Homo sapiens: one gene and its partners. The protein of the gene in region 5 interacts with the protein of the main gene of each other region in a pairwise test. Each region holds a gene or a part of one and is shown on either strand. Other genes may lie near its edges.

Region 1 (6,652 bases), on a different chromosome or scaffold from region 5:
CAGGGACTTGGAGGGGAAAGGGAGAGAATGCCCAAAGCTTGATCAATAGGCTCTTTCCACATAATTACATAAATCTAAACCCAGCCGCTTGCTCATCCTCCCGCCAAGAAGAAACAGACAATGTAGACACCATCCCTTAGAAAAGAACTGAGAGGAAACAAAGCAGGCCTTGCCTTTTCGTCCTGGTACAGCTTGTTGACGCTCTCCAGCTGGAAGTTGTGGCTGGACTGGATTTTGTCAAGCTGCTCCCGCTGCTTCTCCAGCTCTCCCTGGAACTCGTTCTTCTTCAGCTCCACGGCGCCTCTCTCTGCAGCCGCCCTGCGGACCCTGCCTTCCAGCTCCATGATCCGTGTCTACAAGGAGACCGTGGCATTAGGGCTGATGCCAAGTTACCTGAGGAGCCTGGACCACCTGAGCGCCCTCCACAAAGACCACCTTGGGGCCCAGGGCCAGCACCAGTCTTATACACACAAGTGCCCAAGGCTGTGTTTTAAGTCAACTGGACAGAAGCTGGAGCGGTTTCTTCTGGAAAAAATGGTCTCTGTCAGTGTAAGTGAAGGAAGGCTCTGTGCACTCACACCACACTTCCCACTGGGTTTTTGTGAGGCTTAAATGTGCTAAGTGCACAGAATGCCTCATGCTTTACCTGGCATAAGATGATGCTCAAATATTTAGTTCTTCTTCGCTGCTAACAAAGCACTTAACAACTCTTTAGCAGATACAATTTCTGAAAACAGATTCAGTTCTCCAACTCCAGACAAGCAGACCTCATCTGCCCAGAGAACAGGAACTCCCGTGGAAGCTGAGACACAGGGAGTACAAGCCCAGGAGGGTAAGTGTGAGAACAGGACAGAGCACAGACGTGCTGGGGTGCCACGGCTAAGCCCATGCAGGTTGGAATCCCTGCTCCACCTCAACCTCTTGGTGCCTCAGTCTGACCCCCTGTGAAATGAGGAAAGTCAAGTCCCAGCCTTGTAGGGTTTGTGCACAAAAGGAGATAATTTGTATAAAGTACTGTGAAAGAGAAATTATTCTGACATTCATTAAAATGGTAAGAAAGACTATTCAAAACGATTGCAATAGGAGAGGGAAATTGTGCTCAATGCCGAACACATCAAAGACAGCTAGGGATTTATAGCCAACGAGCACAGTGCGGGGAGTCAGTGGATGGAAATCGCCCCCAGAGTAGGGGGATTCTTGCTAAACTGGCCTAACAAGATTCTTGCTAAACACAGGCCAAGGACTTAGACAGCAAGGGTAGGGATGAGGAACTTGGTCAAGGATCAGGGGTAGAAGGATGGCTTAGCGGGATCCTTTGCTAGGACTGGGCTGGGCAGGCCAAAGACAGGCAGTGAGAGTTGGGAGGTGCCAAGATCAAGGCCTAGTCAAGAAGACGGCTCAGAAGGGCCCGACTCAAGTTCAATCAAGAGGAGCATCTTTGTCACTGCTCAGCACTGCACCTGACCCATGACTGCACCGGTAAATGAGGAAGTTAAAATTATTATTATCATTAAGTAATGAAGATAAAGATTGGTACCTTTAAAAACATATTTCTTACACCCATCATCCAAGCACACTTCCAATACTACTCTTCGATATCTTGGGCGCCGGAGGACCGCAAACAACGGACTATGGCCAGTGTATGTAAGCAAGCTGTCTTCCCAGAACCACCCCAGTAGCTCAAATGAATGCTGTTAACTCACAGGAAAGGCAGGGAGGGATACCACAACCGCAATCCTACACAACCACAGAGGGGACCTCTCCCACCCAAAGCTGCTTGGGGTCTGGCCCAGGGCTGTGGGGGTGTGCAGAGCCCTAAACTCACCTTACAAGCGTGTGCCCTGCACAAAACGCCCTGGCTGGCAATAAACAACAAACCCCTGGGACCCCATCATAACAAAATAAACAAAACATAAACATAAAATAAACATAACAATAAAGAAAACAAAACACCTGGAGGTCCACGCTCCGGGAGCTCGCAATCCAGTAGTTGAAGCCCAAGACGATGATGCAGGCCACCAGGGCGGCCAGCACGAGGGGCGGCGACTTCATGCTGCGACGCCCGTTTCCCAAGCCCATCATCTCAAAATCAGCGCTGAGAATCTGCCAAGTAAAAGCAAATAAATAAACATCAATACTAGTTTTATCATCTCCGAAGCAGACCGTATCATCCTTACAACCAAGAGGAAAGGAGTCTTGCCAAGAAGCGTGGGCTGGTAGCTTCTCCTTGACGTGCAAAGCTGTCAAGGGAGAAGAGTATGTGAACGGCACGCACAGAGCCCATGGTGCTGTGAACCCAGGGCAGTGTGGCCAGTTCCCAGGACAGGCTCGGAGGAGCAGGCACCGCCCCGAAACCTGCCACAGATTAGCTCGAGACCTGGGGCAAGACATGATTCCTCTTACACTTCAGATTCCTCCCTTGTAAAATCATTACCATACTCACCTTCCCGGCATAGTTTGAGAATTAATCATTTCTGTAAGCAGCAATGTTTGAGAAGTAATCATTTCTGTAAACACCAATAACAAATATTAAGTGCTTCCGCATCATATTAGAAAGAGTATATTCCTCATTACTCCTCAGAGAGAGCTTTTTGCTTTGATTCCTAACAAGGGAGGTTTTTTTTACCCTTGACAGGATTACTAATGACACCCAATTAAAGCATTTCTCAAGCAAAGCAGGAAACCCATTCTGGAGGTGAATGTGAACTCCCCCCCATGTACATCATTATTCAGGCACAGCCCTGGCTATAGAAGTGTCTCCTCCTTCATGACACACAACGGAAGTGGGAGGTGTGCCATCTGCCTGAAGTCACCAGGAAAAATGTGTTCCATCTTAGGATTTGAGGTGGAAACAAGGCATTCACTCCATGCCAAACGAGAGCACCTTCTTTCGAACATTCATTTCTCACTTTAGGGACCGTATCTGTGCAACTGCTGCATTGTACACCTCATGTTAGGAAAAACAGTGCCTCTGTGTGAGAGCTACAGAGTGCACAAAAATACAGCTTAGAAGAAAGATGCCATAAATTTTGTTAATGGGCTTCAATTCAAAGCCAGGTCTGCCTGGATGCAAGCACTGGTCTCTAGGAACAAGGAAAGTAGACTTTTCCAAATGGCTTTTCCCAAGCCAGATAAAACAGAACCTTATCAGAGTGAGCGTGGCTGCACTGCAACAAACAGCCTTTGAGCACAGAGAGCCTTTTACACCAGGGGTGTCTAGCAACAGAGGAGGAAAGGGGATGGTGGGCAAAAAAGACAAGGGACGGGTAAGGAAGAGGATACCACCAAGGATTCACCTGCAAAACCCAATTCTCACCAGTGAGAACATGGGAGAACTGATCCTCACCCTATGGTCTTTTCAGGTGGGTCACCAAAAGGCTTCTTTTTTCTTAACAGCTAGCTACTAGTATGGGGGCCTGCCAGGGGATAAAGAAGCAATCTAGCCGAATCATCTAAAATAAAGCACCCCCAGAATTCCCACGGGTGGAAATTCTGACCTGTGCTCATGTCTTACCAGCTTCTGGCCTCTCAGGATGAAAGGGGAAACCACGTTTTTCTTTCAATTATCAGCTGATATCAGCAAGCACTGAATATACTCAAGAGACTCTTGATCACAAGAGTCTCTTTTTTGACTCTTAAACTTTTTAAAATTTTTGTTTATTTATTTTAGAGACAGGGTCTCTGTCGCCCAGGGTGGAGTCAGTCACGCAATTGTGGCTCACTGAAGCCTCAAACTCTTGGGCTCAAATAATCCTCCTGCCCTCAACCTCTCAAGTAGCTGGGACTACAGACATGGGCCACCATGCCCAGCTAATTTTTTAAAACAATTTTTGTACAGACAGGGTCTCACTATTGCCTAGGTTGGCCTCAAATTCCTGACCTCAAGTGATCCTCCCATCTGGGCCCCTCAAAGTACTGGGATTACAGGTATGAGCCAGTGCACCCAGCCTCAATGATTTTTTTTTTTTTTTTTTTGAGACGGAGTTTCGCTCTTGTTTTCCAGGCTGGAGTGCAATGGTGTGATCTCAGCTCACTACAACCTCTGCCTCCCGGGTTAAAGCGATTCTCCTGCCTCAGCTTCCCGAGTAGCTGGGATTACAGGCATGCACCACCACGGCCAGCTAATTTTGTATTTTTAGTAGAGACGGGGTTTCTCCATGTTGGTCAGGCTGGTCTGGAACTCCCAACCTCAGGTGATCCGTCTGCCTCGTTCTCCCAAAGTGCTGGGAATATAGGCATGAGCCACCGTGCCCAGCTAACCTTGTTTTTAAAATATAAAAGTACAAATACAAGAGGGGGTGGCAGGGACTTTTCCAAATGGCTTTTGCTAAGGAAAAAATAGGAAACTACACACAGTAGAGTATAAATTGGTCGGGTGCAGTGGCTCATGCCTGTAATCCCAGCACTTTGGGAGGCCAAGGCAGGTAGATGGCCTGAAGTCAGGAATTTGAGACCAGCCTGGCCAACGTGGTGAAACTCCATCTCTACTAAAAATACAAAAGCAGCCAGGCATGGTGGCACATGCCTGTAGTCCCAGCTACTCAAGAGGCTGAGACAGGAGAAAAGCTTGAACCCATGAGGCGGAGCTTGCAGTGAGCCAAGATGACACCACTGCACTCCAGCCTGGGCGACAGAGCGAGACTCTGATTAAAAAAAAAAAAGAAAAAAGGATAAATTACATCCCCCTCATCCTACTCCAAAGGAAAGGGATAACATTTTCTAACATCTGGGTCCTTCTGTTCCAGTGGTCCTCAACACTCAAGGGGCATCAGCATCACCTGGGACACTTTTTTTTTTTTTTTTTTTTTGAGATGGAGTCTCTCTCTGTTGCCCAGGCTGGAGTGCAGTGGCGTGATCTAGGTTCACTGCAAGCTCCGCCTCCCAGGTTCATGCCATTCTCCTGCCTCAGCCTCCCGAGTAGCTGGGACTACAGGCACCTGCCACCACACCTGGCTAATTTTTTGTAGTTTTAGTAGAGACGAAGTTCCCCCATTAGCCAGGATGGTCTTGATCTCCTGACCTTGTGATCCGCCCGCCTCGGCCTCCCAAAGTGCTGGGATTACAGGCATGAGCCACCGTGCCCAGCCTGACACTTTTTAAAATATCAATACCTGGGCTCCACCACTGCATTTCTTTTCTTTCCTTTTTTTTTTTTCTTGAGACAGGGTCTCACTCTGTTGCTCAGGCTGACACACTCACTCTGTCACCCAGGCTGAAATAGCTGCCTAGTGGTGTGATCCCAGCCTCAACTCCTGGGCTCAAGTGATCCTCCCACCTCAGCTTCCCCAACTTCCTGGGCTCAAGTGATCCTCCCACTTCAGCTTCCCAAGTAGCTGGGACTACAGGTGTGTGCCACCACGCCCAGCTAATTTTTTCTATTTTTGTAGAGATGGGGTCTCACTATGTTGCTCAAGCTGGTCTCAAACTCCTGGGCTCAGTGATCCTCCCGCCTCAGCCTCCTAAAGTGCTGGGAGTACAGGCGTGAGCCATCACACCTGGCCCCCAGCCCTGCATTTCTAATTCAATGGGGTTTAGGGCAAGGCCCGGATATTTGTATTTTTTAACCTCCCCAGGTGATTCATATGTATAGCCGCTATTCTAGATGTTTCTAGATGCATATATAAGCATCAATATATTTATTTTAATCCAAACAAGATCACACCATTCACACTCTTCTGTAAATGCTGTGTATTTCTTAGTAACACATCTTGCCTCCCCTTTTTTAGTAGCACATTATGGTTTGCTCCATTCTTTTCAAAGGGCTGAATAGGGCACCACTGTGTGCCAAGATCTGCTTAACTGATCTCCTACAGAGAAACAGTCAAGGTTTTCCAGGCTTATTTCCAACAATGCTACCATAAACAACCTTACACAGCTGTCCCTCAGTATTCACTGGGGATTGGTTCCAGGACCCCCTGAGGACACCAAAAGCCAAGGATGTTCAAGTCTCTTATATAAAATGGCATACTATGTGAATCCAACCCAGGCACATCCTCCTCTAGGCTTTAAACCATGTCTAGATTACTTATAATACTTAGTACAATATAAATGCTATGTAATTAGCTGTTAAGCCATATGTTTAGGAACTAATCACAAAAAAGTCTATACATGTTCAGTACAGATGCAACCACAGTAGGCCTAACTAATTTTTGTTTGTTTTTCTGAGATGGGAGTCTTGCTCTGTCACCCAGGCTAGAGTGCAGTGGCACGAACTTGGCTCACTGCAACCTCCGACTCCCAGGTTCAAAGGATTCTCCCATCTCAGCCTCCTGAGTAGCTGGGATTAGAGGTGGCCACCACCACACCCAGCTAGTTTTTTTTGTACTTTTAGTAGAGACAGTGTTTCACTATGTTGGCCAGGCTGGTCTCGAATTCTCGGCCTCAAGTGATCTGCCTGCCTCGGCCTCCCAAAGTGCTGGGATTATGGGCATGAGCCACCATGCCCAGCCAGGCTTAAGTACATTTTGAACAGCTAGTTTAATCTGCAGATGTGGAACTGTACATCCATCTCTGTGTTTACGAACTCTTACCTATGTGTACAGTCCCTTATTCACAACTTTGAAATCCAAAACGGTCTCTAAAAACTCAGAGAAAGTTTTAAAAACTTTTCCAGCAACAAAACCTGAACTGAGATCAAGGTCTGATCAGAACT
Region 2 (3,500 bases), on a different chromosome or scaffold from region 5:
GATGACATTTTGGACTCCGTTTCCCAGATACTTGTTTCTCAAGCCAGACCCTTTTTGAATTCCCACACACAGAGTCAGGAAGTTGTGGAAATGACCCAGGAAAAGTCCCAGTGACACTAGAATGGAAGCCCTGTGACAGCAGCGGCTGTGTGGTTCCCCAGTGTATCTCCTATGCCTGGAACAGTGACTTCCTGGCTTGTGGTAGGAGTGCCAGAGAGCTGTTGAATGAGTACCATTTTCACCCAGTCAAGGGGCCAAATATTGTAATTGTCCTAGCTTTATTTAGGCAAGGTTGATGCTGTCCTGATCCTTTAAGCCACAGGTCCCTGTCACTTCTCACGGGAGGCCTCTCTGATGCCTGAATGGTGAGTGGGGACATTCAGCAGGATGAGACCAACAAAGCCCTGTGAAGCTTTGCTTCCTCCAAGAGAAGCGATGTTGCTTCACTCTCTCCAAGAAGCCATAGGCCACTGATGACAAGTGGTAATTGTCAGTTGCAGATTAAGACCCCTCATTCCCCCCAGGTGGGGCTGGTCCTGAGGAAGAACACTTGTTACTGTCATCACTGCTTGTTCCTGGAGGGCCGCAGTGGAGCGGAGTGGATGCGAAGGAAACAGTGGGAGTGGGTGGATCTTGTTGGAATGGGGCAGAGTGAAGGAAAATTCCTCTTCAACAGCCCTCTGCTGCTTTTTCTCTCCCACTGGCTAATTTACGAATCTACATAAACTCTCTATAAGCGCTTGAGACTTGAGGATGAAGATAAGCCAGTGGGTTGGGTGTTAACTACTGTAAGGATCTGGAGGGAGAGACAATTGAGGAAAAAAGGTGATTTTTCTACTTTGTCACAACTAAGGTACGTGAGCCTAATCTATTTTGTTTTTTTCTCTTTTTATTTGTGTCATATCTTTTTCATACAGTGGGTGTTTTGCTCCTACAACTTTCCATACCTGTGTCCTTGTTGATTTGAGTTTTTCACAGTGTCCCATGATGTGAGAGCTGTCAACCGTTAGTATTATAAAGCTCTGTACACAATGGATGTTACGATAAAATAGTCTAGTGGCCATCAGGAAATTGTTGCCCTATTATCTCTGCCAGTGGGAACATCTATTTCACAGGGCTCAGAAAATGAATTAAAGGTTCTGGGTATGATGAGGAGATTCCCTAGACCAAATGACCCCTGCTCTTACCAGTGACGGAAAACAAAGTCCTAATTGCGGCTTCGACGATCTCGAGACGCTGATAGTAATGTAGTGGGCTGTTCTTCCGCGTGTGGCTAAAGTACTTCAGCGGGTACTTCACTGACCAACACAGCCCAATGATCAGGAAGAAACTCCCTGGAAGCGCGTGGCCCTTGAAATTTGCCATCAGGACACCTAAAAAATTAGGGGAAGGCTGTTAGGTGGCTAATGAAGCAAGCAAACAAATGTATATTTTGGCAGGAAACACAATACGTGCCTGAGATTGCAAATCATAAGCCACGTTAAGAAGGATCAACACATTCTCATAAAACAAGCCTTATGTTACGTCACTGAAGTCTCATCTGTAAAGTGAGTTGCATAACCAACTGGACTCCACTGTCTGTAATGCTTTAAACATGTGGGTAAAATAAAAGGATGAGGGTGGGGAAAGAGGAGGATAGGTAATATTTATTGATCTCAGATAGAGAAAACTTCCAAGCCATAAACATAAAGGGGGGAACTAGAAAAGAAAAACGTTCAGCTATATAAGCATCTTTTAATATCAAGAACATCAAAAGGTAAACAACAAATCAGAAACATGCTTGTAGCAGTTGGCTATTACATTAGAGTCTTTACAAATTGATAAGAAAAAGACCGTAGAAGAATAGGCAGAAGACATGAACGGATGATTCACAAAATAATACAAACAAATTATAAATCTCCCGGAAATTAGAGATGGGCAAACGAAAGCACAACATCATTTTTCACCCAACTGGAAAATAATTTTATAAAGTTTTGGTGTGGTGGTCTAGTACAAATGAACCTGGTCAATATGATTCACAGTTTGTAAAAATCAGCATAACGATGTAAACATCACCTTATTCCAAAAATTTTCAGGCATGATTTGCTGTTATCCCATTTGCAGTAGCATGAAACTATAGCTAGGATTTATTCAGAAGTAGATTGATTATTTTCCCCACTGGCCTGGGTGGTTACCTAAAGAATATGTAGGGTGGGAGAAAAATACCAGTTGTTGGTGATTGCTGTGGTTTGAATGTGTCCCCTCCAAAATCCAGGTGTTGCCAAGGTGATAGCATTAAGAGAAGGGGACTTTTTTTTTTTTTTTGAGGCAGAGTTTCACTCTGTCACCCAGGCTGGAGTGCAGTGGCACGATCTTGGCTCACTACAACCTCTGCCTCCCAGGTTCAAGCGATTCTCCTGCCTCAGCCTCCCGAGTAGCTGGAATTACAGGCACCCGCCACCACGCCTGGCTAATTTTTATATTTTTAGTAGAGACGGGGTTTCACCATGTTGGCCAGGCTTTTCTCGAACTCCTGACCTTAGGTGATCTGCCCACCTCGGCCTCCCAAAGTGCTGGGATTACAGGTGTGAGCCACCACACCCGGCCGAGAAGAGGACTTTTAAGAAGGGACTAGGCCATGAGGGCCCCTCCCTCCTGAACTAGGAGCAGATGCCCTCCCTCATACAGGGGTTGGCTGGAGGGAGCTGGTCCCCTGTTTGTCCTCCTGCATGTGAGGATGCAGCCCTCAGCAGACACCAGATGCTGCTGCCTTGATCTTGGACTTCCCAGCTTTCAGAACAGTGAGAAATAAATTGTTGTTCTTTATAAATTACCCAGTCTGCGTATTGTGTGATATCAGCACAACAGGGACTAAGACAGAAATTGGTACCAGAGGAGTTTATAACATTTATAACCAGGGGTTATAACAAATATGTAAAAATGTGGGGGTGGCTTTGGAACTGGATAATGAATACAAGCTGGAACAGCTTTGAAGTGAGTGCTGAAAAAAGCCTGGATTGCCATGAACGGAGCACTAAGGATGATTCTGGTGAGGGCTCAGAAGAAGAGGAGAGCTGTAGATGTGGGATATGAGCTGTGGGGAAAGCCTCGTTCTTAGAGATTGCCTAAGTGGTCATGAACAGAATGTTGATAGAGATACCGATGGTGAAGGCAATTCTGATGAGGTCTCAGACAGAAATAAAGAACAAGGTATTGGAAACTAGAAGAAAGGTTATCCTTGTTAGAAAGTGGTAAAGAACTTACCTGAATTATGTCGTTTCCTAGGACTTCATGGAGGGCAGAACTTAAGAATGATGACCTAGGATATTTGGCAGAAGAGATAGAAAGCAAAGTGTTCAGGATGCTGTGTGGCTTCTCTTAACTGCTTATAGAAAAACATGAGAGGCCAGGTGCGGTGGCTCACGCCTGTAATCCCAGCACTTTGGGAGGGCGAGGCAGGCAGATCACCTGAGGTCAGGAGTTCGAGATAAGCCTGACAAACATGGTGAAACCCTGTCTCT
Region 3 (6,652 bases), on a different chromosome or scaffold from region 5:
TTCTACCTGGTCTCCCCTAGCATTAGTGACACCTCCACACAAGGGACATGGGCCATGAACAAAGGAAGAGCTCTTTTCTTTGTGAGAAGCCCAGTGACCTGAACAAGTGACTGAACCTGTGACCTCAGTCTCATAGGCACCATGTTCTAAGTAACTGTGCTAACCGGCTTGGACAGACATCACACACCCTGCTGTACACACATACACATAGGTCTGGACACATGAGTGCATGCATATATCCTTCCAGTCTGGATAAGCGGGTAGGTGAGGAGATCCATGGGTTAAGTTGAGGAAAAAGATGGTATGGGCATTGCTTGTTTGGCAACATTTCCCTTTCTTTTCCCCTTCAGCCATGTAAAAGCAGAAGAGCAACTAAACTGGGAGCTTCACTCCCCCACCTCCACCCTCCCTGAAGGCACTTTTTTTTTTTTTTTGAGACAGGGTCTCACTTGTCACCCAGGCTGGAGTGCAGTGGTGTGATCATGGCTCATTGCAACGTCAACCGCCTTGGCTCAAGAGATCCTAGTATCTCAGCCTTCCAAGTACCTGTGACCACAGGCATGTGCCACTATGCCAGCCTAGTTTTTAAAAATTTTTTTTGTAGAGACGGGGTATCCCTATGTTGCCCAGGCTGGCCTCAAACTCCTGTGCTCAAGTGATCCTCCTGCCTCAGCCTCCCAAAATGCTGGGATTACAGGCTTGAGCCACTGGGCCTGGCCTATTTTTTTCTTTTTCTTTCTTTTTGTTTTTGAGACAGGTGCAGTGGTGATCATGGCTCACTGTAGCCTCAACCTCCTGGGCTGGAGCAATCTTCCTGTAAAGGCACTTTTGACTCTCGTTAGGACTTGAGTGTCTGTCTTCTCCCTTCTCTGACCCCTCTACAACCAATTGTGCAGCAGTTTTGGCAAGAAAATAGATGTCAGGGGCTCAAAATAGAATGAACCAGAAACACGGAAGCTACCAAAAACCAGTATGAAATCTCTGGAAGTTCAGCTGGCCCAGGAGATGGGGGACAATGATAGTCAGGATTTGAAAAGAAAGGAATACAAGTAATGACGACATTTGTTGAATATTATTGAGTAAGACTTTCTACAATACTACCTTCTGAGCTGGGTTACTAGGGCTGTGGAAAGAGGTGTAGAAGTGACAAAAAGGGTGTCATAGCAGCTATCTTTATGCGAAAATCCAGAGGTGATGGCTTCCACACTCTTGAGTGCTCCATCGAAAGTCACCCTTCACCCAGAAAGTGGAAAGTAAGAGAGGAAAGGAAGGGGAAAGGGGGAAGGGAGGCCTCTGTAGGATGTGTAGGAGTGGGCCTGTGACTCTGGCAGGAGTTGGGCCTATACAACATCCCAAACCCCAATTGTTCCTCTAACTGAGCAGTAGGAAGAAAAAGAAAAGAGGGAACAATACTGGGAAAAAAGGGTATGGCACATATAGCAAACGTGATAAAAAATGCACTGTGAAAGTAGGAGAAGCTGAGAAAATATGTGATTGGGACAGCCAATTTCATCCCTTCTCCCACCAATGCTGGAAACTGGAGCGAAGTTGAGGATAAAAGAGGGTGAGACTCCTAGGGTGAAGAGGCTGCACTTCCTCAAGCCACCCAAACAGGCCACATTCCCCATCCACAAGGAGGTGTCAAGCGATTTCACATTATCTACCATAGCACCCAGCTTCAGGCAGGTGATGAAATCTCTCTAGGTTTAGTCTTCTGTCACCCCTAAAGCCAGAGAGAGCTGGGGTTGCCTAAACCCGCTTCCCAGTAATATTTGAATACTGGGAGAGATACAGGAGGATGAAGGGAGAAAGAGACTTGCAATAAAGTTTCCCAGCCCCACTGCTGGGGAGTTGCAAATGGGTCCAGTTCAAGAGGTACAATCCAGGCTGGCCATACTCTTTTCATCACTCTCGCCTAGCAAGCTTCTTAGTCTGGTTCCTTTGCACTAGTACAGCATAATCTTTACAGAAGCCTCTGGTACACCTAATTCCATGAACAGATGGGAAATGACTTATTTCAGATGGAATATTCATAATCTATGGCTTAGGGTGTAGGGTATGGGTGTGTGTGTGTGTGTGTGTGTGTGTGTGTGCGCGCGCGTGCACGCGTGCGCATGCGCTTGCGCACATGTGTATATGTGTAGAACAAAGCCTTTTCTCTAGGGTTCATTCATTCAATCTCAAGTGAGACAACACCTTTCAAGACAGGAAATCCCACTCCGTCATTCACACAATCTGAAAAGAGTAGTTTTCATCTTTTCAAAATGCAACAAAACCATAAAATGAGGCTGGTGGGAAAAGCAGTGCATCTTCCTGGGAAACTGGTCTGCTCAAAAGGTTGATATGGCATCCTTTATATACTTCTACAAATGTTGACAGTCCAGCTGCTTGTTTACTCTTCATGGGCTGGAGGCAATACGGCCAATGACTTCCAAGGAAAAGGAAAGAGAGCTCTGTGCCTGCTACTTCCGTAGGCACACTCTCAGCTAAGCCCTGACGCTGCAGTTGACCAGGGATTGTGGGCATCTAATGGGCCTTCTCCAGGATCACAGTAGCAACCCTCCCCAACCCCACCACAGCAGGATCCAGGCAGTGGCCCTGAGCCAGCTATCAAAACGCCCTGTTTGAAGACCTCTGAAGGGAACCTCATTTAGGAATCCGTTTCCTCTGCTAGCTGGAAGTAACAGCAAACCAAGGTCACACTGACTATGCATTTCTGAGAAATAAGACTGTGCTGTGGGAAATTCAGTTTCAGAAGAGGGGTCCAAACTGAGGCTTGAGGAAATGTTTATAATTTAATACTTTTGAGGAACAGGTTCAAACGCTGGAAAACAGCAGCATACAGACCCACCCTGCTTGCCTGCCAAATCCAGGGAGTTCTCTTGGAGACCCAGCTCTATACCAATCAGGACACTCTGGAAGAAGCAGCTCCACATGCAGGGTTGCCCTTACATACTAGGTAAAAAGGATTGGGTAATTTTTAAACACATCTATACCCATGGGCAGCCCCATAGTCTTTAAATACAAATGACGTGGGGAAATGATGTATATAGGGCTTTTCCTTGCTTTCCCAATCTTCTCCCAATCCATCCTCACTGTCATTCAGGCAGCTTAACGAACTTTTATTTACTTAAATGAGTCAAAATGTATGACATATGAATAGTAAAGAATAAGATATCACATAATTTTAGAAGGATAGAATGGTAGGGCTAGAAAGTTTATTTAGTCAAACCCTCTCATTTTATAGATAGATAAACTGACATACAGAGAGGTGAAGTGCCTGTCCAAAGTCACAGAATAAGTTAGGGGCACAAGTTGTCTAAGTCACAGTTACTGCCTAGCTGGTATCACTGAGACTGCCAGCTTTGGGGAGTCCAGATTTGGCCCTGGGTCTTGCTTTTTTAGACTTAGAATGAGCATTTGAGGCCACTGTACAGTGATCCAGGCATCCAGCCTCAACCAGCTACCCCAACTCAAACAAGCATCCTCCTGGTTGGCCTCCAAATGACCCAATCTCTTATTCTCATCCCTTTCAGTATCAGTCATGGTCATAGTTCAAGATCCCATTTGGTTGGAAAGGGGGCAGGGGAATGACGTGAGAGATGCCTGGCCAAGGGCTGTGTGGCTTGAAGCACCACAGCAGGCGCTAAGCCAACCTGATCTAGCTCTGCTGGACAGTAGTCAAGAGCCTTCAGCTGAAGTCAAGAGATTGGCAGATTTGCTCAAAATACACTTTGCTCCCAAAGTCAGCAATTTAGTGTTACAGTCCAGTGAGACACTGAACCAAGCAATGAAAACCCCTAAGGTGAGAAGGAGAAAGACAGCCTACTCTACCTGGCCCCACCCAACCTTGGGACTCTTGGTTCACCCAAAGGCAGAGTGTATCATTCTTCCCCATGCCTAGAAAATTCTGTTTCCATCAGAGTGGACCATCAGCCTGAACTATCTTGTGCCTAGTAGTGAACCTTCCTGACCATTGTCCCTTTCTCTGGTGATGAGAGCCTCAGCCTTGACCCCCCTTGGGAGCTTACAAGGACCATGCTTATAAACTGCCCAGTAAAACAAAAATGCCTTCCATATTTTTTGGCTCAATGGTGGACCGGCAGTCAAGTTTTACTCTGGAGTACTTTTAAAAAGACTTAAGCATAGAGCCAATGTTAGCAACTCTGGCTTGTTCTGCCTTGTCCTCTGAACTCCCAACCCTAACCCTATTGCAGGTCCAACTCACTTAGGGTCCCAATATTGAGCTGGGGCCTACAATCAATGGCGTCTTGCTTCTCTTTCCCCTCTTTCCTCCAAAAGGCTTCCCTACCACCCCAAGAAGCTATGCTTGGGCCTTTACTTTCCACAGAATTGCCTGGTTGCCTCCTGTCCTGTCTGCTGTTTGGTCTGGGTTGGGGAACTCACAAATTTCCCATGATCTTGGCAAGAAATACAGGCTCATTTCCCTCCTGATCTTTTTCCTTTTTTCACTAAACCAGAGTTTGATCACTTGCCTCCCTCTCAGGGACCTTTTGCCTGCCAATCCACCCAAGCCTAGGACCCAGGGAAAGTTGGCTTTCCTCCAAAACTGGTGAAGAGAGGGGATAAGATATACAGCTGGTGACACCACAAAACTGTATACATCAAAGGGTCCACAAAAACTGCACATTGCATGCTCTAGTAAGGCCTGAATCCCATATCCCTTCTAACTTCTGTGGCTTTTTCCCATGCCCAGAGGCACTCTGATGTGGAGCTGTTCCTCAAACATCAAAACTACCTTTCTTCCCAGCTACTTGGGAGGCTGAGGCAGTAGGACTGCTGGAGGCCAGGAGTTTGAGACCAGCCTGGGCAACATAGCAAGAGTCTGTTTTTAAATAAATAAATAAATAAATAAAAATTAGCCAGGTGTGGTGGCGCATGCCTGTAGTTCTAGCTACTTGAGAAGCTGAGGTGGGACGATTGCTTGTGCCCAGGAGTTTGAAGGTGTCGTGAAATATGACTGCGCCACTGCACTCCAACCTGGTCAACAGAGCAAGATCCCATCTCTAAAAATAAAGTATAAGAAACTACCTTTCTGTGGGGCTTCCTCACAACAATCCCAATCATCTGCAGGACCTTCCACCCATTAAGCCACTCAACACAGCTTTAGGTCTGTGAAGATATTAGGCCTAGTCAAAGAGAAATTGGGTTACGAGGTGCCTCCAAACACCAAATTCATAGACTCTTAGAGATGGAAGTCATGTCAGATATTAATAAAAATGGACGATGCACCAAATTCCTTGAGCGTGGGGGTGTACATTCTGTTTCTCCCAGAATGGCTATTGGACAAATACTGGCTGATAAAAATGACACAAACTTCTATTAGCTTCTTCTATCCCTTTGAGACACCAGTGCTGTGGCACAGACGGCTGGGAAATTTTGAGTAAACAGCAGAAAGTGTCTGCAGGCAAAGACATTCAGAATCTCAGGATCTGAATGGTTGCTTGGGAAAGTTGAAGAGCTCAGCAAAGGTAGTACTGAGGATGAGATTTTCTAGGAGCTCCATGTGATAGGGTGTTCCTGACTTTTCCAAAATAAAAACTGTGGTGTCCCTAAGAACCTCTAGTATAAAAAATAATGTCAGTGAGTTCAAGATACACCACAGCAAGGACCCAAGCCAAAGTATTCTGAGACCCTAGGGACATACCAAATTCCTTTCTGTTTCTTCCTGACCTATACTCACTATAATTTAAACCAGTGACCTCAGCCCCTCAGTGAACCTGGTCTGTGTCAGAGTATGCACTAGCCACACCTCTGCATAGCCAACTGCACCCCCACCACCACCCCCACCCTCTAGCTGCACTGTGAGGTCTTGACCGGAAAGTCCCAGCCAGCCCTCCCCCTGAGTCCCCTATGATCACCTACTTTGAAGTCTGTTCCCCAGCAGTGAGCCTCTTCCTGGTAAAATAGTGGTTTTTCCAAGTTTTATTATACACTCCTAAGATCACAGCTCTAGGCCTCCTCACACCATATAAATGCCAGGGCCTAGCTTCAGCCTAGCCTCTACTGCTTCTCATCAAGTTTCACTCAGACTTTGCCACTCACTGATCCTGAAGGCCAACAGCCTGCCTTCAACCACAGGGCAATGCTCAGCAGGTGCCCTTGGAGGTAACCTAGGCAACAGCATGAGTCCCTACACTGCCTGCTTTCCCAGGAGCCCCTGAACTGCATCAAAGCAGGGAAAAAGGTGGTCCCAGGGGTGACTGTGGCAGCCATCTTCCCCGCAGAAGTTGCTCTACACTGTCCCAGGACCCCTCCATTCCAGCATCACAGTGGGCCTGGGTAGTCAAGAGACTTCCTTTGACAACCACTGACGCACTATCTTCATCGGGGCCTGCACACCGCTGCTGTGCCAATGGATCACAAGGTCTGAGGCACCAAGATCCCCAAAGCCCCTTCTGCCAGGGAAGTCCAGCAAAGCTGCAAACTAAAACCACAAGTCCTGGAGAGGGCCCAGGGAATCCACAGGTGGACACTCCAGAATTCAAGGTTTCTATGTTCACTTAATAATTCCCAGGTCCCCTCAAATGGCAGTAGAAATATGTGGGGGTTGGAGGTTGGCGAGAGGATGGAACTCCTCAGTCCGAGGGCAACACTGCGAAAAGCCACATATTCTGAGTTGTGAACTTGG
Region 4 (6,652 bases), on a different chromosome or scaffold from region 5:
ACTTTGGGAGGCTGAGGTGGGCAGATCACCTGAGGTCAGGAGTTCGAGACCTGGCCAACACAGCAAAACCCTGTCTCTACTAAAAATTTTAAAAATTAGCTATGCATGCTGGTGCATGTCTGTAGTCCCAGCTACTCAGGTGGTCGAGGCAAGAGAATCGCTTGAACCCGGGAGGTGGAGGTTGCAGTGAGCCGAGATCAAGCCACTGCACTCCAGCCTGGGCAACAGAGGGAGACTCCATCTTAAAAACAAGAGGCAGTGCGGGGTGGGTGGGGGGTGAGTCCTGAGAGTTCCTAACCTCCTGGGAATTGTTTCAAGAAGGAAATGAGATGACTCCCTTAGAGCAGAGTGTGGCGTGTGGCAAACACTCCACAAACATCACTGTGGCTGCTGTGGTCACGCATCCAGCTGTCTGAGATGCTCAGGATTTGGGCACCCCTGTCCTGTTAGCACATATGACATCTCAGGGTCCAAGGATCGAGCTTATGTGTTCTTTTTGTCCTGTGCTCTACATGGTAACAAGATTCACTGTGTTAAAAGGGTCTTACAATGGAGAGGTAATGAGACAGTTTGCCCCAGTTCTCATTAAAAATTTCAAGATCTCTCAAGACTCAGCCACTGCCTAGGGACGCTAAGTCTCTGTGTCCCTCATGGAGTCCTGGTATCTTGCAGTTAATTATTCTTTTTTTTTGGAGACAGAATCTCACTCTACCCAGGCTAGAGTGCAGTGACATGATCTCAGCTCATTGCAACCTCTGCCTCCTGGGTTCAAGCGATTCTCCTGCCTCAGCCTCCCAGGTAGGTGGATTTCAGGTGCCTGCCACCATGCCCGGCTAATTTTTTGTATTTTTAGTAGAGACAGGGTTTCGCCATGTTGGCCAGGCTGGTCTCGAACTCCTGACCTCAGGTGATCTGCCCACCTTGGCCTCCCAAAGTGCTGGGATTACAGGCGTAAGCCACCATGCCTGGCCAATCCATTCTTTTTTTTGAGACAAGGTCTCACTCAGTCACCCAGGCTGGAGTGCAGCGGCATGATCACAGGCTCACTGCAGCCTCTACTTCCAGGCTCAGGTGATCCTCCCACCTCAGCCTCCTGGGTAGCTGAGACTACAGGCATGCATGACCATGCCAGGCTAATTTTTTTTTGTAGAGATGGGGTTTTACCATGTTGCCCAGGCTGGGCTTGAACTCGTGGCCTCAAGTGAGCTGCCTACCTTGGCCTCCCAAAGTGCTGGGATTACAAGTGTGAGCCACTGTGCCCAGCTCACACCTATAATCCCAGTCCCAGCATTTTCTTTTTCTTTTTGAGACCCAGGTCTTGCTCTGTCACCCAGGCTAGAGTGCAGTAGCAGGAACATAGTTCAGTCTGCAGCCTTCACTTCCTGGGCTCAAGTGATTCTCCCTCCTCAGCCTCCCCAGTAGCTGGGACCACAGGCACGCACCACCATGCTCAGCTAATTTTTGTATTTTTTTGTAGAGATGGTATCTCGCTGTGTGGCCCAGGCTGGTTTCAAACTCCTGGGTTCAAGAGACCCTCCTGCCTCAGCCTCCTAAAGAGCTGGGATTGCAGGCGGGAGCCACCGCACCTGGCCTCATTCATTCAACAAGCATCTACAGGCCGGGTGCGGTGGCTCACGCCTCTAATCCCAGCACTTTGGGAGGCCGAGGCGGGTGGATCACGAGGTCAGGAGATCGAGACCATCCTGGCTAACACGGTGAAACCCCGTCTCTACTAAAAGTACAAATAATTAGCCGGGCGTGGTGGCGGGCGCCTGTCATCCCAGCTACTCAGGAGGCTGAGACAGGAGAATGGCATGAACCCGGGAAGGTGGAGCTTGCAGTGAGCCGAGATTGTGCCACTGCACTCCAGCCTGGGAGACAGAGGGAGACTCCATCTCAAAAAAAACTAAAACACAAAAAAACAAGCATCTACCAAGCACCCTCCATGAGCCAGGCCCTATGCTAGGAGCTGAGACAGCAGTTGTGAACAGGAGACCCTGGCTGCTCCTTGCTCTTGACTCCAGGACCCCGGAATGCCCTGCACCCCATCTGCCTTCCCCGTTCCCTGTGTCCATCTTCTCTCCCTAGAACCAGAGGCTCCGTGGCTACTCACACTGGACATCCAGCTCAGCTCCCGGGCCCCTCTGTCCAGTACCAAGAATGTTTTCTGCCACACAGGAATAAGTCCCAGCGTGCCAGGGGAGGATCTTTGGGATGTGGACTTTCTCCTCTGTCCTTCCCTGCATTTCTTTCCCATTGTGGTACCACGTGTAATTTGTTGGAAGAGGATTGGCCAGTGACATGCAAAGAAACTCGACTTGACTTCCCTCCACAGCCGGTGAGTGGAGGATCTGAACCGTGGAAGGTTCCGGGGCATCTGGAAGAGGGGGCAGAGGCGAGTGGAGGGGTGAGGAGAGCACCCCCAACCTGTGCACACGGCCCCGAGAGCCCCCGTGGCTCCCCTCTCCGGGTCCACCCCTGCTACCTCCCTGCCTGGCCTGTCCCCAGCTCCGAGGGGCTCACACTGCACTTGCAGGAACACTTCTTCCGACCTTCCCGGGCCCACGTCATTGGAGACCTGACAGCAGTACTTCCCACTCTGGTCCTTGGTCACTTCGCGCAGGTTTAGCGTGAATGTATTCTGCTTCTTCAGCGAGGTCCCATCCTTGAGCCAGGATACCGTCGTGTACTCCGGGTTGCTGCTGCTGACCTCGCAGGTCATGGTCACAGAGTCCCCCTCCCTCACTATGGCATCACTGGGAGTGACCTTGATCTCCAACTTCGGGGTGTCTGGAGGAGCAGAGGGGCAGTCGGGGAGGGGGCGGGGAATCCTCAGAGGGTGGAGGGTGTGGAAAGTGCTTTTATTCTGACAAAGCCATGGCCTGCCAGTCCCTTCACCCAGGTGATGGTCACAGCCTCCTAACTCGGCTCTCAGCTTCCCCCTCCCACTTCCTCTACTTCTTGGTCTCCACCAGCAGCACGCAGGGTTCCTAACACCATCTACCAGACCTCGCCAATCCTGCTGGAAACCACGAGCGGGTTCTGTGCTTTGCATAGAATCCCAAACCCTCACCTCAGCCCTCGGGATCCAGAGTCCTGCTCCATCTCCTGCCTCCTGTCCTACCATGTGGCCCTCAGAGGCGGTGAACTTCAGCCTCTGAGGTCCTCCCACCCAGCTGCTGCCTCAAAGCTTTGAACCTGCCCTTCTCTTTCCCTGAAATCCTCCTCTCCCAAATATGTGCCGGCCTCAGCCACTCCCTCCGTTCCAGTCAGCTTAAGTGCTCACCTTCTTTTTTTTTCTTTTTTTGAGATGGAGTCTCACTCGTCACCCAGGTTGGAGTGCAGTGGTGCGATCTCAGCTCACTGCAAGCTCCGCCTCCTGGGTTCATGTCATTCTCCTGCCTTGGCCTCCCAAGTAGCTGGGACTACAGGCGCCTGCCATCATGCCTGGCTAATTTTTTGTATTTTTACTAGAGATGGGGTTTCACCATGTTAGCCAGGATGGTCTCGATCTCCTGACCTTGTGATCCCCCCGCCTCGGCCTTCCAAAGTGCTAGGATTACAGGCGTGAGCCACCGCACCCGGCCTAAGTGCTCACCTTCTTAGAGAGGTCTCTCTCCATCACTCCCCTCTCTCGGCCTTATTTTTTTCCTAACACACATATCACTACCTACAATAGTGTTGTATATTTCTTTGTTAACATTGCTTTGTTCCAGATTCTAATGTCTTGGCTCATGCTCTGTATTTCTTTGGTAATCCATTTGTTGTCTGTCTCTTTCACTGCAGCGCTGGCTCCGCGTGGGGCAAGAGTTTTGCTCACTGCTGCACCCTGCCCACCGCCCCATGCCCCCCATTGGCAGCCGTAATAAGGCCTGGTACCTAGTAGGTTCATGATACGTATTTATTGAATGAATGAGGCACAAGATAATGATGCGAAAAAAATCCCCACCAAGAGGGGAACAAAAAGACCTAACCAGATAATCCCCAATTCATGTCATGGCTTGAGGATGGACCATTTTATTCTGTTAGGCTAGAGCAAATCTTTTTCCCGAAACACCAGGGCTGACAAGGCGGCGTGACCAGGGCTGGAGGATGCCGCCGTCTGTGCAGGCTTCCCCCTGCCCTGGGTGCATGCCCCCTGCGGGGCTGGGGAGAAGGTGACACAGACCTTGCCCTTCCCACAGGCATGCCGGGGAGACTCACGCTTCACGTTCAGCTGCACCGTGTCATTGGAGAGGAACTTCCCATCTGCATCCTGAAGCTGGCAGGTCACAATCTTCCCATGGTGACTCCACTGTGGGGAGAACTTGAGCTCGCTCCGGGTGAAGACAGACTTGATGGTCAAGGAGGTCGAGGTGACAGCAGCCTGCCTCATTGGAACCCCCTCTAGGAGCCACTGCAATTGGATCGGATACCCATAGCAGGAGAAATTCAGCAAGCAGGTCAGAGTGACTTCCTGGGACTCTTGAATTTCTGGAGGGAGCTGGATATGAGGTGGAAAAGGCCTTTCTGCAAAAGAACAGAGCCCGTGCAGGAGCCTGGGGGACTGAGGACGTGAGCGTACACCTGGCTTTAGATGTCCTGTCCCAAATCACCCCTCAGGAACCCCTTGCCACTTCATTCCACCTCTCTCCAGTCCTGCTTTGTTTTTTTGTTGTTATTGTTGTTGTTGTTGTGTTGTTGTTTTTTTGAGATGGAGTTTCCCTCTGTCACCCAGGCTGGAGTGCAGTGGCGCGATCTTGGCTCGCTGTAACCTCTACCTCCCCAGTTCAAGTGATCCTCCTGCCTCAGCCTCCCGAGTAGCTGGGATTACAGGTGCCCACCACCACACCCAGCTAATTTTTCTGTATTTCTAGTAGAGACAGGGTTTCGCCATGTTGGCCAGGCTGGTCTTGAACTCCTGACCTCAAGTGATCCTCCCGCCTTGGCCTCCCAAAGTGCTGGGATTACAGGTGTAAGCCACCACACCCGGCCTCTTTTTTTCTTTAGAGACAGGGTCTTGCTTTGTCACCCAGGCTGGAGTGCAGTGGCGCAATCCTAGCTCACTGTAGCCTCAACCTCCTAGGCTCAAGCAATCCTCTCACCTCAGCCCCCTGAGTAACTGGGACTACAGGCATGTGCCACCACACCTAGCTAGTTTTTTAAACATTTTGTAGAGACAGGGTCTTGCCATGTTACCCAGGCTGGTCTCAAACTCCTGGGCTCAAACGATCCTCCGATCTCAGCCTCCCAAAGTGCTGGGGTTACAGGCGGGAACCACTGCACCCAACGCAGTCCTGCTTTTCTCCACTTTGAATCACTTTTGCTCACCCGAAATCCCCTCTGAAAGGCCTTGACCACACTAAGCCTCCTTGGGAACTGTGATCTACTTTTCTTTCATGCTCATTGCCGGATGTCTGCTTTCTGAATGATTGCAAAGTTCTATTCCCACCACCTCACCACCTCTTTTTTTTTTTTTTTTTTTTTTGAGACAGAGTCTCGCTCTGTCGCCCGGACTGGAGTGTAGTGGCGTGATCTCAGCTCACTGCAAGCTCCACCTTCCGGGTTCACGCCATTCTCCTGCCTCAGCCTCCTGAGTAGCTGGGACTACAGGCGCCTGCCACCACGCCTGGCTAACTTTTTGCATTTTTAGTAGAGACAGGGTTTCACTGTGTTAGTCAGGATGGTCTCGATCTCCTGACCTTGTGATCCGCCTGCCTCGGCCTCCCAAAGTTCTGGGATTACAGGCGTGAGCCACCGTGCCCGGCCTATTCCCACCACCTCTAAGTGAATTTTATCAGTTTAGTTCACGGACTTTTCAGCTTTGACAAACTTGTGTTACTTTCATGGCTTCCTTCAGTATTGCAGCCATCCACGCACCGCATTCCTTTAGTGGAGTGGGTCTGTGTGCACCCAGCCTCAGCTCTCCCCAAGGCTGGACCACCTCCTTCAGACAGCGGGGTCTGAAGTTGCATTGCTCACCCCAAATTTAAGGCTGCTCAGAACTGCCCATCCGGGAAACGGTGTGGAACGGAGTGACCACACTCCCTGTGGCAGGGGCCCCCCACACCTGTGTTTGATGGGTCAAAGCCACCCCTACATGTGCAGTGCTATAACTGAACCTATGTTATAAAAATTATAAGATGTTCGTTTTACTTCTTTTCTTTTCTCTTTGTCCTTTCCTTCCTCCATGCATGATTAGTTACATTTGGTCATTTCAGTAGCAGGTAACCATTAATTCACTCATAATTGTTTAACTTACATCCTGACTCCCTGGCAGCTGCCTGCAAGATAAATGAACTTGTCTCTCTTTCAAAGAACAATGATCCTTAGGTCACACAGACCTCCTTGATGACATCCAGAAATTTGATGAGCCGAGGGGCACAACAGCTTTGACGATCGGGAGGTCACCTCCTGCACACCTACTTTACTCATAAAAGCCCCCACTAACGCTCAAAGTCAGGTCAGATTTGAGAGTTTCTCTCTTCTGTCCCCTTGCTTTGGCTAAATTAAATAATCCTATCTCAGCTTCTAAGCACTGAGGTGTCAGTGTTTGGCTGACTACGCATCGGGAGCTCAAACCTGGCCTTTGGGGTTCAACAACAGTGTCATCTGACCTTGAAGAGCTCATGAGAACTTGCCATGAACATTAACATGCTGGGAGATTTCACTG
Region 5 (6,652 bases):
CACCCTCTACCCCAGTCAATCTCATTAAGCTATCATGTACATTTTTTCATCCCATGCTTTGTGAATATCACTTCCAAGCTAAAAGTATTTTTAGTAGCTCCCATGGCCCAAGCATGGCCTTCTACCTTAGCTAATCTCCATTTCCACTTCTGCCTCTCTACAATCCGTTCTCAATACAGAAAAAAAAAAAATCTTCCAAAAACACAAACCATTTCCTTTCATTCCCTTACCTGAAATATGTCAATGGCAGCCCAATGTATTTAAAACAACAGCCAAAATCCTTAATAAAGGATAAATTATCAGGCTACAAAGCCCTGATAATTTTGTTCCTGCCTACCTCTCCAAATTCATCTTTAACCATTCCCCCTTCTTGTTCTCTATACTCTACCCCTGACTTGCCTCCTTCCTGCCTCAGAGGTGCACTTACTTTTCTTCCTGCTGGAATGTACTTCCCTGGATGGAGAATCACTCAGGTCTCAGCTCAAATGTCACCTACTTCTCCCCACATTACTTTTCACATCACCCTGCTTATTTTGTTCGTGTTCTTATTATAATCTATAATTTTCTTATTTATGTGCTTAATCATGTATTGTACATCTCCTCAGTTTGAAAGTAAACTTTGAGGGCATGAGTTGTCTTGTTCCACACTATCCACAGTATTTCGCATTACCTATTACACACTAAGTGCTCAACCTGTATCTTTTCTGTTAAGTGAATGGATGGTCCAAACGTAAAGTATGCATTCAAACAAGTCTTTCAGTGGAGTCTGGAAGTCAGTATAAATGCTTAAGTAATGACAATGAAAATGAAGGCATTCACTGAAGGTGGACAAAAAATATAACTAAACTAAAAATGTATAGCAAAAATGGGGTACCAATAAAACTGATATTACATTTAAAAAGAAATCAAATCACGTTCATATGACTACTTCTTGAACATCTTTTAATGTCTGAGAAATAGGAATATTTAGAAATAATAAACATTTGTTGACTCCTCCCATAAGCAGGTACATATTAGATAGAAATGCAATATGATATACACCTATTATGTATCCACAAAGATTTTTAGAAATAAGAAATTTTTTTAATTAAAAAAATTTTAAAGATTTACCCAGAAATGAAAAAAAAAAGTAATTTGGGTATTTCACACTTATTTTATATAATATGGAATACTAGCATTAATGCTGTTTTTTTTTTTTTTAGTTCAGAATTTTTTTTTAAAACATATGGGGTCTCACTATGTTGCCCAGGCTGGCCTCAAACTCCTGGGCTCAAGTGATCCTCCTGCCTTAGCCTCCCAAAGTGCTAGGACTACAGGCGTGAGCCACTGTGCCCAGCCTGGAATGTTTTAACAAGTTAAATGTTCAACACATTTGAAGTAAAAAATAACATTTCAGAACATTAAAAACTCATAAACTTATAAAAATACAAGTGTTAAGCATACATTGCCATTCTAATATAAATCAGGGAAAAAAGTGAAACATTTTAAAAGAAACCATATAAAAATGAGGAAAATTTAAATAATCACCAAAAAATTGAGAATTCTGATTTCTTCAAAAGCATAATTTTGCATAAAAATTGCATTACTAGTATCACAACTGAGCTGTGAGCATATTTTTTATTACTTTATCTTTTTTAAAACGGTCTTTATTTTTTAGACCAGTTTTAGGTTCACAGCAACACTGAGCAGATTTCCCATATTCCCCCACCCTGCCACCACCAGAGGGTACCTCTGTTATAACTGATGATCCTACACTAACACATCATTATCACCCAGAGTCCATAGTTTGCATTAGGGTTCACTCTTGGTGTTATACATTCTATGGGTTTAGACAAATTTACAATGACATGTATTCATCATTATAGCATCAGGCAGATTAGGTTCACTGCCCTAAAAATTTTCTGGGCTCTGCCTATTCATCCCTCTCTCTACCCAACCCCTGATATTTTTATTGTCTCTATAATTTTGCCTTTTCCAGAATGTCATATAACTGAAATCATACGGTATGCAGCTGTTTCAGATTGGCTTCTTTCCCTCATAATACGTGTTTTCTGTATCTTCTCATGGCTTCATAGTTTCTCTTTAGGACTGCATAATATGTCATTCTCTGTATGTATTACAGTTTATCTGTTCACCTACTGAAGGACATCTTGGTTGCTTCCATGTTCTGGCAATTATGAATAAGGCTGACATGAACACCCACATGCAGGTTTTTGTGTGGACAGTTTTTCACTCCTTTGGGTAAATACCAAGGAGCATGATTGCTGGATGGTAAGAGTATGTTTAGTTTTTTTAAGAAACCACCAAATTGTCTCCCAAAGTAGCTGTACCATTTGGCATTCCCACTAGCAATGAATAAGAGTTCCTGTTAATCCACATTCTCACCAGCATTTGGTGTTGTCAGCGTTCTAGATTTTAGTTAGCCATTTTAGTAAGTGTGTAGTGGGATCTCATTGTTTTAATTTGCATTTCCCTGATGACATATGACGTGGAGCATCTTTTTCATATGTTTATTTGCCATCTGTATATCCTCTGTGATGAGGTGTCCATTAAGATCTTTGGCTCATTTTTAAAATCAGGTTGTTCATTTTCTATCTTTTTTTTTTTTTTGAGTACAGAGGACTTTATTGATGGTACACGACAAGATAGAGCTCTTTGTGGGGTCTGCATGGAAACTGTGAAGAGGGGAGATTCCCAGTGTGGTGGGGGACTGAGCATGGCAGGGACTGCCCAGAAGCTGAAGGTCTCTTTCTTCCTCTTGTGCTCTCACTGGGGCTGGTTGTCGAGCAGTCTTACTCCTTGGAGGCCATATGGGCCACCACCCTGTTGCTGTAGCCAAATTCACTGTTGTACGAGGAAATGAGCTTGACAAAGTGGTCACTGAGGGCAATGGCAGCCCCAGCATCGAAAGTGGAAGAGTGAGTGTCACTGTTAAAGTCAGAGGAAACAACCTGGTGTTCAGTGTAGCCCAAGATGCCCTTGAGGGGCCCTCTGACGCCTGCTTCACCACCTTTTTGATGTCATCATATTTGGCAGGTTTCTCCAGATGGCAGGTCAGGTCCACAACCAACACGTTTGCAGAAGGACACGGAAGGCCATGCTAGTGAGCTTCCTGTTCAGCTCGGGGATGGCCTTGCCCACAGCCTTGGCAACACCAGTAGATGCAGGGATGATGTTCTGGAGAGCCCCACAGACATATGCCACAGTTTCCCACAGAGGCCATCGAGTCTTCTGGGCAGGAGTGGCAGCATGGATTGTGGTCACAAGTCCTTCCACAATGCCAAAGTTGTCATGGATGGGCTTGGCCGGGGGATTAAGCAGTTGGTGGTACAGAAGGCATTGCTGATGATCTTGAGGCTGTTTTCAGACTTCTCAGGGATCATGCCCATTATGAATATGGGGGCATCAGCAGAGGGGGTAGAGATGATGACCCTTTTGGCTCCCCCATTAAGTGAGCCCCAGCCTTCTCTATGGTCATGAAGATGCCAGTGGACTCCACGGCATACTCAGCTTCAGCATCACCCCATTTGATTTTGGTAGGATCTTGCTCCTGGAAGATGGTGATGGGATTTCCATTGATGACAAGCTTCCCATTCTCAGCCTTGACGGTGTGGTGGAATTTGCCATGGGTAGAAATACTGGAACATGCAGACCATGTAGTTGAGGTCAATGAAGGGTCATTGATGGTGACAATATCCACTTTACTAGAGTTAAAAGCAGCCCTGGTGACCAGGTGCCCAATATGGCCCAAATCTATTTACTCTGGCCTTCACCTTCACCATGATGTCTTAGAGACATGGCTTTGAGAAGAGGATGGTCAGCACTGAGTGACCTCAGCCAGCACCCATACCCACCTCTCTTTTTGTTGAGTTTTAAGAGTTCTTTGTGTATTTTGGATAACAGTCTTCATCATATATGTCTTTTGAAAACATTTTGGGCTGGGTGCTGTGGCTCACACCTATAATCCCAGCACTTTGGGAGGCCAAGGTGGGCGGATCACCTGAGGTCAGGAGTTCAAGACCAGCCTGGCCAACATGGTGAAACCCCGTCTCTACTAAAAATACAAAAATTAGCCAGGTGTGGTGGTGTGCACCTGTAGTCCCAGGTACTCGGGAGGCTGAGGCAGGAGAATAGCTTGAACCTGGGAGGTGGAGGTTGCAGTGAGCCAAGATCGCGCCACTGCACTCCAGCCTGGGTGACAGAGTGAGACTCTGTCTTAAAAAAAAAAAAAAAAAAAAAGAAATGTGTTATTTAATGTCTAAGTATTCAGTGATTTTCCGGCTATCTTTCTGTTATCAAATTGTAATTTAATTCCTTTTCGTCTGAGATCAGATATTGGATGATTTCCATTTTGGCCAATTCCAAAACAGCTACAGCCTCACTCATTACTTTGTGCTTGTACTCTATAGAGATGGTTATCCTATTTACTATTCTGACTATACTTTGGCGCTTTTTTTTTTTTAACATCAGTTATTGCCAGGTGCCCAAACATGAATTTAATATATTATTTTGACTGAAAATCAACTATGTGTTTTTAATTTCCTCAGATGTCCCCTGTCTACCTAGACTCCATTCCTACCTGTTCCACTGGTACCCAACTCCACTACTCTTCACTGCTCATATGCTTTGGAGGGGTCAGTCTTTATTATCTAAGGCCATGTAACATATCACATTCCCTAGCTATTGTGGTTTATTTAAAGGTGAGCAAGTGACCAGTCCAATAAAACTCTTTGCTTGGAATGCCAGAGAAATACATTCACTTTATTTTTCTATGGTGTATAAATGAGATACCTAAAATTGCTTTTGTCATTTTTATATTTCATAGATAGCAAGTATACAGAGTGAGGCAGAACAGATAAAAGGGTCAAGCCTTGGGCTTTTCCTATTACGGGTATCAATAAAGGATCTTTTTAAGACAGTTTAAATTAGGTTTTCTGTTACTTAGAACAAAATATCTAAATGACACAGAATCTGAAGTGGTCATTACTATTTGATTTCCACTCTTATATGCTTCTGTCATTGCTTCCTAAAAAGGAAAAAAATATGGTTTGTGGCACATGTTTCAGCAAAAGACAAAGGTCAAAGGGTGAAGTGCACTGATATTTAACTCTCTTTGAGAAGGAGCTGAATCCAGGCCTAAGAAATCTCATGTTCAGCACAGGAGATTGAACACTGACTGAGAGCTTGGTAAATTCTAGAACTGACCAAGGAGATAACCGAAAAACAAGTTGAAAGGATATTCTGAATAAACAAGTGAAATAAAAATAAGCCTATTGTGGGAAAACTTTTATAAGCAATCCACAGTTTTTGTTGTGTTTAAAAAAAATCAGCATTAACAGCCAATGGGCAAAATACAGCCAAAAGACTGAGGAGAGGGCAGAGGGGCAGATTTAAATTAACGTAGCAGCAATGCTGGGCTACTGGAAAAAAGATGACTGATAGTAGGACTAAAACTGCCACCAAAGTTAAAATGCCTATATAAACTGTTTCAACAAAGTCACACTCAGAATATTTTTGTTTTTTTAATTAAACTTACGCAGGCTGGGTGTGGTGGCTCATGCCTGTAATCCTAGCACTTTGGGAGGCCACAGCAGATCACTTGAGGTCAGGAGTTTGAGACCAGCCTGGCCAATATAGTGAAACCCCGTCTCCACTAAAAATACAAAAATTAGCTGGGTGTGATGGCATGTACCTGTAGTCGCAGCTACTTGGGAGGCTGAGACAGGAGAATCGCTTCAACCCAGGAGGCGGAAGCTACAGTGAGCTGAGGTTGCACCACTGCACTCCAGCCTGGGAGACAGAGCAAAACTCCATCTCAAAAACAAACAAACAAAAACCAAAAAAACTCAGGCAAACCAAAAAAGGCATCATAATGTAATAAAAGAAAATATAGGTTATTTGGCTAGTTTTAATATGTTTACTTTAAAAAATAAAATACAGCAGAGTATCTAATGTCATCAAGACCCAATATGGAAAGGTAGCTAAATAAACCATTCGTGCTCTTGCATTTGTTTCTGATTTACTTGGTACCATACCTAAATAATAATGTGCACAAATCTTTTAATTGATTGTATTCAGAATTTATTAAAAGCACCACTTATTGGATAGTTTATTAAATGCATGCAAGTATCTGTATATGATTTCTTCAGCATATGTGTGTTTAAGGCAACATGAGAGAGAGCCAGAGACAGGAAAGCTGTCCATTTTAAAATCAAATTGGTGTATATCTCCTGCTTATTCAACATGTTTTGGTCTTGGAATTGTTTCTCTAATAATGTACTGGCAAGTCAGACGTTAAATTATTTAAGGTTTCTAAACACTGATTTGGTGGAAGTGCTAACAATCCTTGTGAACAAAGATAAGCTTCAGAAAAACTGAACAGCACTAAAAAAAAGTATCTACTTTGGAAAATAATGATCCTTTGTAATTGATTTTGGTTTTAGATATAAAGTTTACATTGGTAATTCTAATGTCTGTTTACCAGTTTAATTTTAAAAAGTACTTGGCTGGGTGCAGTGACTCACACCTATAGTCCCAGCACTTTAGGGAATCTGGAGCAAGAGGATCACTTGAGCCTAAGGATTCCAGACCAGCCTGGGCAACATAGTGTGAAACCCCATCTCTACAAAAAAAATTTAAAAATAAACCTTGC

The links.
Region 1: the proteins of ANKRD46 (region 5) and GOLM1 interact in binary tests that used the Homo sapiens proteins (3 or more experiments, as listed by UniProt).
Region 2: the proteins of ANKRD46 (region 5) and TMEM45B interact in binary tests that used the Homo sapiens proteins (3 or more experiments, as listed by UniProt).
Region 3: the proteins of ANKRD46 (region 5) and SLC16A2 interact in a two-hybrid assay, tested with the Homo sapiens proteins (one large-scale study listed by BioGRID).
Region 4: the proteins of ANKRD46 (region 5) and CD22 interact in binary tests that used the Homo sapiens proteins (3 or more experiments, as listed by UniProt).

Annotation. Positions count from the first base shown.
Region 1 is NC_000009.12:86,077,239-86,083,890, forward strand, and holds part of GOLM1 (Golgi membrane protein 1), read right to left. Parts: intron 2,104-6,652; 5' UTR 2,083-2,103; coding exon 1,954-2,082; intron 354-1,953; coding exon 174-353; intron 1-173.
Region 2 is NC_000011.10:129,850,348-129,853,847, reverse strand, and holds part of TMEM45B (transmembrane protein 45B), read right to left. Parts: intron 3,299-3,500; exon of another isoform or gene 3,244-3,298; intron 2,187-3,243; exon of another isoform or gene 2,056-2,186; intron 1,374-2,055; 5' UTR 1,366-1,373; coding exon 1,188-1,365; intron 1-1,187.
Region 3 is NC_000023.11:74,423,253-74,429,904, reverse strand, and holds part of SLC16A2 (monocarboxylate transporter 8), read right to left. Parts: intron 1-6,652. UniProt on the Homo sapiens protein: Specific thyroid hormone transmembrane transporter, that mediates both uptake and efflux of thyroid hormones across the cell membrane independently of pH or a Na(+) gradient.
Region 4 is NC_000019.10:35,333,893-35,340,544, reverse strand, and holds part of CD22 (B-cell receptor CD22 isoform 1 precursor), read right to left. Parts: intron 4,510-6,652; coding exon 4,204-4,509; intron 2,791-4,203; coding exon 2,524-2,790; intron 2,378-2,523; coding exon 2,114-2,377; intron 1-2,113. UniProt on the Homo sapiens protein: Most highly expressed siglec (sialic acid-binding immunoglobulin-like lectin) on B-cells that plays a role in various aspects of B-cell biology including differentiation, antigen presentation, and trafficking to bone marrow.
Region 5 is NC_000008.11:100,547,932-100,554,583, forward strand, and holds part of ANKRD46 (ankyrin repeat domain-containing protein 46), read right to left. Parts: intron 3,803-6,652; exon of another isoform or gene 2,609-3,802; intron 1-2,608.